Linked DNA regions of Homo sapiens. Changing the gene in region 3 together with the main gene of any one other region gives a genetic interaction. Each region holds a gene or a part of one and is shown on either strand. Other genes may lie near its edges.

Region 1 (3,038 bases), about 16 Mb from region 3:
AATTCAGTGTCAGATTAATCCCTCCTTCCCCAAAGTCCACTGGCTTTCGTCTCTCTCTGCCGTGACACATATCGGAATCTACTGTGTATATATATATATATATATATATATATATATATATATATATATATATACACTAAGCTCTCAAAAACAGTCATTCCTATGAATTGAGGTGTACAAAGTTTGAATTTGTATCAAAGATGTAATTATTATTTTTAAAACCTTTTCACTATACTGCTGCTGTAATTACTTTGATTTTTAAAATGTAGATTAATTTTTTTTTTTTTGCTTCAGGTGTGTATCCACCAAGAATTTCAAATTTATGTGGATTTATTTTATTGGTACATAATCTGTAAACTTCTTAAGGCATTAACATGAAAAGATTTTTTCTTTTTATTTTATATTGTGGCTCAGGTTATATTTTGAAGATGTTTTGAGTTTATCCTCCAATAGGCAATGAAGTTGACAAGGTTTTATGAAGGAATAACCAAGTCCCTGGAGTCCTGTGGCTGTTGCCACAGTAATGTGTCCTGCTGTAAACAGGACAGGTGTGTCCTGTTGAGAATGTGAGCGGGCTCTTCCAGCCTCCTGGTCCCTCCTGACTCTGCCACGCCCCTCACCTCACTGGCACTTCGATAACTGACTGGACGTGTTAATGGGTCTTTTAGGGTTCTAAAGGGTGAACCACACTTTTAAAGCCCCGGCTGTGGTTCGGAGGGTTAGTGCTGTATGCCTTTTATTTCCCTTTCCCTTTGAGGTACTGAAAGGATGAAAAGGTGGTGTCATGTTTTGGGGAGAATCTTACTTCTCAAATGGAAATTGCACTTTTTGCTGAATCCTTTGCATTTTTTTGGTAGTAAGCAGTTCATTGAGTATCAGGTCCTCAAAGGAATGAGTTGGCCCGGCTAGGGTGGGCCCTCTTGACCTAACTTCAGAGGGGGCCTTGGCTCAGTAGGTGTGAATCAGGGAAGCCACATTGTCCTCAGGGTGCTGTATGAAGCTGGGTGTGGGCGGATTCCTCCCACACCTTCACACTGGCCTGCCTCCAACTCATACAGATCTCGGAGCGGTCGGTACTTCATTCATAGGTCCCTGTTCAGGCAGCAGTTCTGTGGGCTGTGGCCCTCTCCCCTCCAATATGTCCGAAACCATTGTGATGGGTGGCAAATCCCAGGGAGCTCCTAAGCCCTGCTCTGCCCACATCACTGCCACAGAGAAGTCAGAGGAAGGGACTTGTTGCTAAAAAATCCTTTAAAAGGTTAAATACTTTAAAAGATTAAAGCAACATAACTGTAAACATATTGTATAAAAATGAAAAACACAGGAACCCTCTTCCCTTCCGCCTGGTGTGGGCTTGGGAAATGGGCAAGCGGCCCCAGCAATCATGGGAGGAACTCTTGCGGGGGAGCGGTCTGGGATTCCAAATGGGCAGGTCACACGAAGGTCACGATGCTTCTCTGCATCCTGAAAAGGGCTGGGGACAGGGCCAGTGGGGGTGGTAAGGGTATTTATAGCACAGTGCTTGAAAAGGGAAGATTAATGTGTAAATATAAAGGACACACAGGCTGGGGGTTGGTCAGAGGCAAGAGGAGGGTGCCTCTGAGCTTCAACCCCTCCCAGGAACAATGAGCTCAAATTGGAAGAGTCCAGTGGAATCGGGGGGATGGTGTGAGCACCCCTGTTCAGTCTTTGACAATTGCATACAGAAAAGCAGCTGGTATGGGTTTGGGTGTCAATGAAAGGGCCAAAGACTGGTGGCCAGCTGGTTTGGGGGATTTGGGCCATTGATAGCATCTCCCAGGAACAACGACTTTTTGCCTCCAAAGTTGGATCTAGTGATGATCAGCACCAGCAGGAAATGACATTTGGTGTCTGCCCACTGCAGCCATACTGTGACCTCCAGCCAGACTTCCGCCTAATTGACTCCACTGGATTTGTGCTCTGTTGAGTCAGAGGCTCCCGGGGGTTGGGGATCGAGGGGCGGGGGTCAGCTATGCAGCCCATCACGTGTGTTTTTCATCTGGGATGAAAAAGCCTGGTTCTCTTTTGAAATGCTTGATTGTACTTATTGAGCTAAACAAGTCTTGGTGACTGTTGTTGATTTGCCTCAAAAGTTTTAAGTCCTGGGTTTTCAGACTACTGTGTAGCAGCTGTGTGTTTAACATACTGTAGCTTTTTCTCCCTTGGGGGCACATACAAATAGGATGTGTTGATGTGGACTCTAAACTGTAATTTTCCTGTAACTATTTTGGAATGATGCATATTTCTAATGTTTGTTATACTTGTACAGAGTATTGCTGTTGGTTGCTTTTTTTTTTTTTAAGGAAAAAATGGCCTGAAAACATTTTTTTAAAGACTTACAAATACCAAATATAAAAAAATGTCAATGCATTATGCCTTTGCTTCTTTCTTTCTTCTTTTTTCCTTCTTACAATGTGCCAAGCAGTTTACTGGCCTGCATTTTACTTGGGCATCCTTAACAAAAACACATTTCTCTTTGGGATTTCCGGATTGTTTTAGTTTTCTAGGGCTGTTGTAACAAGTACCACCAACTGGTGGTTTAAACAGCAGAGATTTACTTCCTACAATTTTGGTGGCTGAAATCCAGATGTGGGCAGGGTTGGTTTCCTGTGAGGCCTTTTTTTTTTTTCTTTTTTTGAGACAGAGTCTCACTCTGTTGCTCAGAGTGGAGTGCAGAGGCGTGATCTCAGCTCACTGCAACCTCTGCCTCCTGGGTTCAAGCAGTTCTCCTGCCCCAGCCTTCAGGCGCCTCTCTTCGTAGCTTGCAGATGGCTGTCTTCTCCCCATGCCTCCACATGGTCTTCCCTCTGCTTGTCTGTGTCCTAATCTCCTTCTTTTTTTTTTTTTTTTGAGATGGAGCCTTGTTCTGTCGCCCAGGCTGGAGTGCAGTGGCATGATCTTGGCTCACTGCAACCTCTGCTTCTCGGGCTCAAGCGATTCTCCTGCCTCAACCTCCCGAGTAGTTGGGACTACAGGTGCCTGCCACCACACCCAGCTAATTTTTTTGTATTTTTAAT
Region 2 (3,647 bases), on a different chromosome or scaffold from region 3:
TCTGTTTAACCTGGGATCATATGGAGAAGTCATCATGTGTGTGGCTCAGCTGTGGTCGAGGACACTTGGGGCATGTCAGAGACTTTCTGGTTCTTCTCTGACATGTGATTTGAAATTGTCTTTTCTCCTCCTTGTCATCTCTTGGCCATGTTTGTAGCTTGTCCAAGGTCTGGGAGCTAGGGTCTCTTTGGAATTGTCAGAGTTATTATTTTAGTCTCCCTGAGCCAGGTTTCGGAATCCATTCTAATCACGCTTGAAGAAAACTCTTGGTTCCACCTGGGACATGTCTGGGACATTTAAGAAATCACATTTAAACCCTATCTGGGGCCTGTCTGTGGGGTACACAGAGGTCATGTCAGACTATCTCAGGTCCATGTCAGGAGATGACAGAGAGTGCTATGGCAGACAGGGTGTCCGAGGTCCTTTAAAGGTATTTTGTAGAGTGTGGAGCTGTGTTCAGTTGTTGCAGAACATGTTGGGATATATAGGAGCCATGTCAAGGCGTGCTGGGGTGTGCTATGACCTGTTAGGTTGTGTCATAGCTTTACTGTGCTGTTGCAGCCTGGGCTGGTCCTTCTTCCTCTATCCTCCCTTCGTCCTTTGCCCTTGGCCCCCTTCCTGCTATGCTGGGCATGGAGTGGGGAAAGTGCTGGTAGGCAGCCTTGCCCTATACCTGAAGTTCCTCTCTTGCCCTCTACATGGCCCCTGATGGTCCTCGTTCATGTCAGCTGCCATTGCACCCAAGGATAATCTCTTCATCAGGTTCCTGAAGCCCTGGCTGGGTGAGTACCTGCAGGTGAAAGGGGTTGGGGACAACCTTGCGGGGAGGGTAGGGGAAGTGCTGCTCTTGCCCACTGTCCTTGGCTGCCCTACTAGGAGAAGGGATACTGCTGAGTGGCGGTGACAAGTGGAGCCGCCACCGTCGGATGCTGACGCCCGCCTTCCATTTCAACATCCTGAAGTCCTATATAACGATCTTCAACAAGAGTGCAAACATCATGCTTGTGAGTCCCTTGAAGTCTGGGTCCCAGATGGAGTCTTGGGGTGGAGGGACCATGGACACATCTGGTCTGGAATTTTGGCTCTTCTGGGTGGCACTGGGCCATTGCTCTTCCTCTCTGAGCCTTGGTTTCCTCATCTGTAAAATGGGGATGATAATCCCTACTTGAAAGGTCATTTACTTGGCACACAGTAGGTTCTCAGAAGGTGTCAGTTTCTGTGTTTTTCTCACAGAATCCCTGTAAACTCAAGAGAGTAAAAATGAAGATTGTGTAGTAGTCATTGCTGATTATAAACCACTTCAGAACTCATTGGCTTAGAGCCATAAGGGTTTACAATTGCTAACGAGTCTGTGAGACAGCTGGCCAGTTCTTCTGGATGTGGAAGGGATCACTCTTGGCACATGAGCAGCTGTGGGTCGGGGGGCAGCTTTGCTGATCCTGGCTCAGTTCATTCACGTTTGGGGCTTCAGTACCTTCAGACTCATCTGGGATGGGCTCAGCTGTGACACCTGGACTTTCCCCCATGTGATTCTCTGCCTCCAGAAGGCACCCTGTTGTTCACATGGCAGAGACTGGGCTCCGAGAAACTGAGAGGAGGCTGCAATGTCTGTGGACATTGTCTCTGCAATACTTCAAAGTTCAACCAGGTTTGAGTCTATTAGAGTTATTACATCATCATTTCACCACATTGTACTGGCCAAAGAAAGTCGAAAGTCAAAAGTCCAGTACAGACTCAAAGGGGTGTAAAATAGAACGCATCTCTTAATGGGAGTTGCTGAAAAATTACTGTGGAAAGGGTACGAATACAGGGAGAAGTGAAGAATTGGGGGTCAGGATTTTGTGAAGTGTCTAGGATTTGTTTTAAATATGCAAACTGATAAGTTAGCTTGTTACTGTCTCATGCATTCTAACAGATTCCTGGGTCAGAGACAAAGGGTAGTTGATTACTCATGGCACAATAAGCAACATGTACTTCTTGTTGGTTTGTATCCTTTTTCTGAGTCAACCTAAATTCCATGGGGGTGACACTGGTGGGCCTCTACATTAGCCTGCTCATGCAGTACATTGCATGACATACAATGGGCATTAGGCTTAGGGAATCTACTTTAATAGTGGCAGAAACAAGCCTGATATTGGTCCAGGAGGAGTCATTGCCTTATCTCTCCAGGTGGTTATCTGCAAATACAACTCTGAGAAATGGCTCAGGTAAGAACATCACAGTCTTGCATTGGTGGCATACGCAGCAAGGATGCTCAGGGCTGATGAAGAAGTGCCTCTTCCAACACAGGGATATTTTTGAAATGAATTTATTACAATGGAGATGAATAAAGCAAACATTTACTCATCATATGCCTGAGAAAATGTCATGTCCCAATGCCAGGATATAAGTTGTCTAAGTTAATTTTAATAATCCTGTGAGGTTATGGTTATTTTTGTCCTATTGCAGATGATGAACTGAGGGCCAGAGAGATTAGGGAGCTGGACAGAGTTCAACCAGCCAGGAAGTGAGCTAGGACTGGTGGAGCAGAGATTCTATCCTGGTTTATCTGGCCCCAAAGCAGATCACCTTGACCGTTATTGAATATTTGACAGGTGGGACCTAGAGGAGGGCAATATGTTGACCAAGGGCACATAGAGCATAGGAGACAGAGCTGAGACTTGAATGCAGGTCTCTTGACTCCAAGCCATGGGTCTTCATCTCCTATACTAACAGTTTCTGCTCGCATCCCAGTCTGGTCCTCGCTGGCAATGGGTTCCTGGGGCAGAGGACCAGGAGGCTGGTTGTGGGGGAGTCCATCCTGATGTTTGGGACTGGGGAGGGGCACAAAGGAGGCAGGGCCCAGCTCTAGCTCTCTTCCCTTCTCTGGCCAGGACAAGTGGCAGCACCTGGCCTCAGAGGGCAGCAGTCGTCTGGACATGTTTGAGCACATCAGCCTCATGACCTTGGACAGTCTACAGAAATGCATCTTCAGCTTTGACAGCCATTGTCAGGAGTGAGTTCCTTCCTAGGGCCTGGGATATGAATCCATGGACCAAAGGGAGAAAGTTGGGGAGGGAGGAATGAGCAAAGTAACCAGAAGTACCTTTCGGGAGGATTTGTATCATAGCTGTGCTTTGAAGGTCGAGGAAGAGGAGAAAGTGCTGTCTTTCCAGGTAGAAATATGTGTGTAAAAGCAAGAAGGTTAGGATGAGCCAAGCATGTGCAAGAGACAGTAGAAATGAGGTTGTGGAAGTAGGGGCTAGATATTAAGGGCACTGAAAATCAGGAAAAGTGGTATGAAGTTTATCAAGACATTTCCAGAGACCTTTTGTAGTTTCAGCTGATGATGGATGTGATAAGAGCTGAGCTGTGTGGGAAACTGATAGCCCACCACCACGCCCAGCTAATTTCTGTATTTTCAGTAGAGAGGGGGTTCACCATGTTGTCCAGGCTGGTCTCAAATTCCTGACCTCAGGTGATGTGCCCTCTTTGGCCTCAGAAAATGTTGGGATTACAGGCATGAGCCACTGTGCCCAGCTGCTTCTTCTTTCTTACAGGGTGAAAGAGAGAGGGAGAGAGAGAGAGACAGAGAGACAGAGAGAGAGAGAGAGAAAGAGAGAGAGAGTTGGTTATGCTGGGGGCTGGAGCAGGGCTGAACTGGAAGA
Region 3 (4,131 bases):
TCCAAATAAAGTGAAACTGGCCAGGCACAACCTCAACCTGGAACAGCAGCCCCACCTGGGTATGCACCAGGAGGTATGGGGCCCTGAGTCAGCCTCACCTGGAAGAAGGGATGGTTCCGGACTTCTTGTGCCCCCTGGGGCCCCGCGCCCAATCGCTTCTTAGGATCCTTACAAAGCAGCCGCTGCAGCAGGTCCTGCGCCACGGGCCCGATCCGAGGGGGGAAGGGAGGGGAGCACTTCAGGATCCGTCTGGGAGGATTGGGGGGGTGTCAGGGGCAGCAAGCCCCCCACCCACAGCCCTGCCCAGGCAGGCCCTGCAGCCCTCTGGCCGCCCTCCACGTCCAGCCCTACTCACCGAGACACCTCAGCCTGCGTGTTCCTCTCGCCCTCCAGGGTGAAGGGCGAGGCCCCCGTCAGCAGCTCGAAGAGCAAGATGCCCAGGCTCCACCAGTCCACAGCCTGCCGGGTGGAGCCGGGGTGAGGGCCTGCATCTCCCCTGCCTCACACCCCACCTTTCCACCTCCCCCAGCCCCACTTCCCTGCCAACCTACCTTGCCATGCCCCGTCTTGCTACGGATGATTTCGGGGGCCATGTACTCGATGGTGCCACAGAAGGAGAAGGTCCGCTCTTTCTGGGAGGGCAAGAGGTCCTGCTTAGATGTCGAAACCTCTCCTGTGCCCCAGTGCCCCACAAGGCCCAGAGTAAGACTCGCTCAACTTGTGAGGTTGGAGAGCTGAGCTGTGGAAACTTCTTGGAGCTATTCACTTCTGCAGCCCCAGAATGCAGGCCCAGAGCAGGAAGAGGCAGGAAGGAGAAGGATTGAATGGGGCACTGCAGGCAGAGGTGGCCTCCACTCACCTCCTCCGTCAGGAACTCCTTGCTCAGCCCGAAGTCCGTGAGGACAATGTGGCCCTCGGAGTCCAGCAGCACATTCTCCAGTTTCAGGTCTCGGTAAATGATGCCGAGCTGGTAGGAGCAAGAGGGGTGCTGAGGCTTCCTCCCCGAAACCCTCCCCAGCTCCTCCAGCTCCTGGCCCTGCTCAGGATAAGGAGACCCCCCAGAGAAAGTCATCTGCCTGTAGAGGGGGTCTCCAGGGCAGAGCCACTGAATAAGAAAGGCCATTTAAGATATAAAACAAAGAAGGAGGGCCCCGTGGATCAGGCCCCAAGGTCCCAGAGAGAGGAAAGTCTGTGTGAAGAGCTCCATTTCAAGGAGGCCTTAGGAGCCAGGCCGTGAGGTTTCCATTTGAGGAAGTTCTGTGAACGCAGCCCCGAGTTCCCTGAAAGAGGAAAGCCCCTTCGAGGAGGTGCCAGGGGAGGGGACCCCACCAGGCAACGTTGAGGCTTCCTGCAAGGGGTCCAGGGGAAGCAGCTCCAATTCCCACCCAGCTCACCACTGGCCCCCCAGGAAGCCCAGGGGGAAGCCTGAGGCTGCCCTGCGTGCAGATTCCTTCCAAGGCACAGACCCAGTTTCCATAGCAACAGCCTGCGGCCAGGTCTTCACCCACCTTGTGCAGGTGTTCCAGGGCCAGCACGATCTCACCCCCATACACGCGCACCTCAGCCTCCTTGAAGTACTGGCGCTGGTAGAGGTGGGTGAACATCTCCCCGCCGCTCACATAGTCTGGGAGGTGCAGTGGAAGTCAGGAAGCAGCCCCGTCAGGTGGCCTCGCCTGCCCCCAGCCACCCCAACCCCGTTGGGATGTGGTGTGCGCTCACCCAGGATGAGGTGCAGCTTGGCATCCGTCTGGAAAGCGTAGTGCAGCGTGACCAGGAAGGGCGCCTGGCGCACCAGCTCCAGCACCGAGCGCTCGGTGCGCGTGTGCTCTTGCGTCTTGGCGCGCTGCACCAGCGCCGCCTTGCGCAGCACCTTCATGGCGTACAGCTTCCCCGCGTCGTGCCCGCCCGCCTTCCGCACCAGGAACACCTTGCCGTAGGCTGTGGGAGCAGCGAGTGGGTGGAGGGTGGGCTGTGAGCGGGAGATTGGTGCAGGCTTGGGGGGTGGGGGCGATGCCAACCCAGGAGGGTGTGCAAATGAGGCGAAGGAGCTGGGGCAACAGGCAGGTGTGCAAAAAGCTGGCAGAGCCTTCTAAGGAAAGGGTGTGCACACCCCGGGAGGGTGCCCAGCAAAACCAGGGAAAGGATGTGCAAACCAGGCTGGGGAGCATGCATCTCCAGGGGGCCTGCTGCGAGGCATGGGGGCGGGGCATATGCAAACCTGCGAGAGATCAGATGGATGTGAAAAGATGCCAGTGCAAGGAAGGGAGGCAGAGGTGTGCACCTGGCTGGGGAAGGGATGCGCAAACCAGCGCTGGGGCATTTGCAAAATGTGGGAGGGGGATCCCATATTGGAAGAAAGGGAGGAGCTATGCAAATCACTTGAGAGGGGCGCCAGTCCCCCTCCCCAGGGTGTTGGCAAATCCAGGGGGGTATGCACGCACAGGACCGTGGAGGGAGGAGTGATGTCAATGTGGAGTGCCCTGGAAGTGGGCATGCAAACTCTGGCGAGGCAGGGCGGGGCAGGCAAGGCAGGCTGTGCCGGGAAAGGGTGGGGGGCCTGCTCAGTGGCCTGGCCCAGGCCCAAGAGTGAGCAGGCAGGAGGTCAGGGGCACCGCGCCTGGGACGCCTGCCCGGTGGATGGGGGTCCTCACCTCCCGTGCCCAGCACCTTGAGCAGCTCGAAGTTCTCCACGCTCACCTTCTCCTCGTGCCCGGTCAGGTTGGCTGTGGGCACAGGGGGCGAATGAGCCCAGCCGGTCCATGACCCGTCCCGGCCTGCCCCGGGCAGCCGCAGTCAGGCCCCACACCCACCTTCTGTGATCCGCAGCTCCACGGCGCAGCTCTCATCGTCGTCCTCGTCCCCCATGGCGGGCGGGTCGCTGGGGCCCGCGCGGCTCGGGCTCCGGGCGGCGCCGGTTACATGGCGGCTCCGGCCGGGGCGGGCGCTTCCTGGTGCCGCCTCCGGGGCCGAGGCGGGCGCCGGCACCGCCTCCCGGCTCCCCGCCCTGCGCGGCCTGAGTCAGGCGGCTGGAACGTGACAGCGCCGGGCTGCCGGTGGGCGGCCGGCTGGGGCCGCCCTGTCTCCCGAGCCCCCAGGCCAGGCCTCAGGGCCGTGCGCTCCGGGACCTTACTCGACTCTCCCGGGAACTGGAAACACCCCGTGGGAGCCATCCCTGAGCCCGTGGGTAACCTGGAGCCTCTGGGGCATTAGTCCCCAAGCCAGGAATCTGCCCGGGAATGCCGGCTGCAGCCAGTGGCTGGAGGACATTAGGAGTCTGTGCCCCAAGGTGGGGGACGAGGTGCCTGGTGCTGGGCAGGCTGAGAGGGGGTCTGGATCCTGGAAGTCACCCAACTCTCAGGCAGTGGAGCCCACCCCACTCCATCGTCCTGGGGGTGGCCAGCAGGGCCCCTCTCCCCAGAGGACTGGCCTTTGCAAGGAGGAGCCTCATCACCAAGAGGGGGCTGGAGCCCGGCCTGGGACCCCATGGCAAGGAGAGGAGTGGCCAGTTTTCTGACCAGCTTTCTGTCGGGGGTGCCTGCAGAAGCACTTCAGCCCCCAGTCACCGTGCAGAGCCCACCAGGTGCCATGCGCACCTCACGTGTTCTGCTCCTGTTGTCTCCTAGCCTGGTGCAGTACCCAGCTTAGAGCCCTGAGCAGGCCTCAAGAAGAGATGTCAGTGCCACACGGGGCTGCCCCCTCTCCCCATGAGGCCCAGGGCCCCTGCTGACTGGTCCTCCTGAGCCCCTGCTCCGTCTTCTTCCTGCCTTTCCCTTCCTGACCACCAATGGGGCCACCTAGCAGAGTGGGACAGCCATGAGGCCCCACACCCTGAGGCCGGTGGGAGGGGCTCTCAGCTCCTCTGCCAGCTGGAGAGGCCAGGGTGTCCACCCCACGCCCCTGTCCTGTGAAGCCCTGGCTGAGAGGAGGAGGAACTCAAGCTGCTGCAGGTCACACCTGGGAGGCCGGACGGACCGTCCCTCCCAGCTCTGCACCCCCCAAGTTCAGGCTGCCTTATCTCAGCCCTGGGCAGCTCCACCCTCCCCTGGGTGGCCCCAGGTACCCTGACTCACATCCTGCACCCCAGCCGAATTGCCCCGCCTCTCAGGCATCAGGCTAGAGGCCCTGGTCAGA

The links.
Region 1: changes in RPS6KA4 (region 3) and PTPRJ together harm fitness more than expected from each alone (negative genetic interaction), as found in Homo sapiens cells (one large-scale study listed by BioGRID).
Region 2: changes in RPS6KA4 (region 3) and CYP4F12 together harm fitness more than expected from each alone (negative genetic interaction), as found in Homo sapiens cells (one large-scale study listed by BioGRID).

What each region holds. Positions count from the first base shown.
Region 1 is NC_000011.10:48,168,449-48,171,486, forward strand, and holds the end of PTPRJ (receptor-type tyrosine-protein phosphatase eta isoform 1 precursor), read left to right. Parts: 3' UTR 1-2,391; downstream 2,392-3,038. UniProt on the Homo sapiens protein: Tyrosine phosphatase which dephosphorylates or contributes to the dephosphorylation of CTNND1, FLT3, PDGFRB, MET, KDR, LYN, SRC, MAPK1, MAPK3, EGFR, TJP1, OCLN, PIK3R1 and PIK3R2. Plays a role in cell adhesion, migration, proliferation and differentiation.
Region 2 is NC_000019.10:15,679,516-15,683,162, forward strand, and holds part of CYP4F12 (cytochrome P450 4F12), read left to right. Parts: intron 1-728; coding exon 729-782; exon of another isoform or gene 783-876; coding exon 877-1,004; intron 1,005-1,174; exon of another isoform or gene 1,175-2,198; coding exon of another isoform or gene 2,199-2,207; exon of another isoform or gene 2,208-2,594; intron 2,595-2,873; coding exon 2,874-2,995; intron 2,996-3,647. UniProt on the Homo sapiens protein: A cytochrome P450 monooxygenase involved in the metabolism of endogenous polyunsaturated fatty acids (PUFAs).
Region 3 is NC_000011.10:64,357,970-64,362,100, reverse strand, and holds the start of RPS6KA4 (ribosomal protein S6 kinase alpha-4), read right to left. Parts: upstream 2,940-4,131; 5' UTR 2,866-2,939; coding exon 2,811-2,865; intron 2,724-2,810; coding exon 2,652-2,723; intron 1,939-2,651; coding exon 1,720-1,938; intron 1,625-1,719; coding exon 1,509-1,624; intron 968-1,508; coding exon 860-967; intron 633-859; coding exon 552-632; intron 460-551; coding exon 356-459; intron 250-355; coding exon 99-249; intron 1-98. UniProt on the Homo sapiens protein: Serine/threonine-protein kinase that is required for the mitogen or stress-induced phosphorylation of the transcription factors CREB1 and ATF1 and for the regulation of the transcription factor RELA, and that contributes to gene activation by histone phosphorylation and functions in the regulation of inflammatory genes.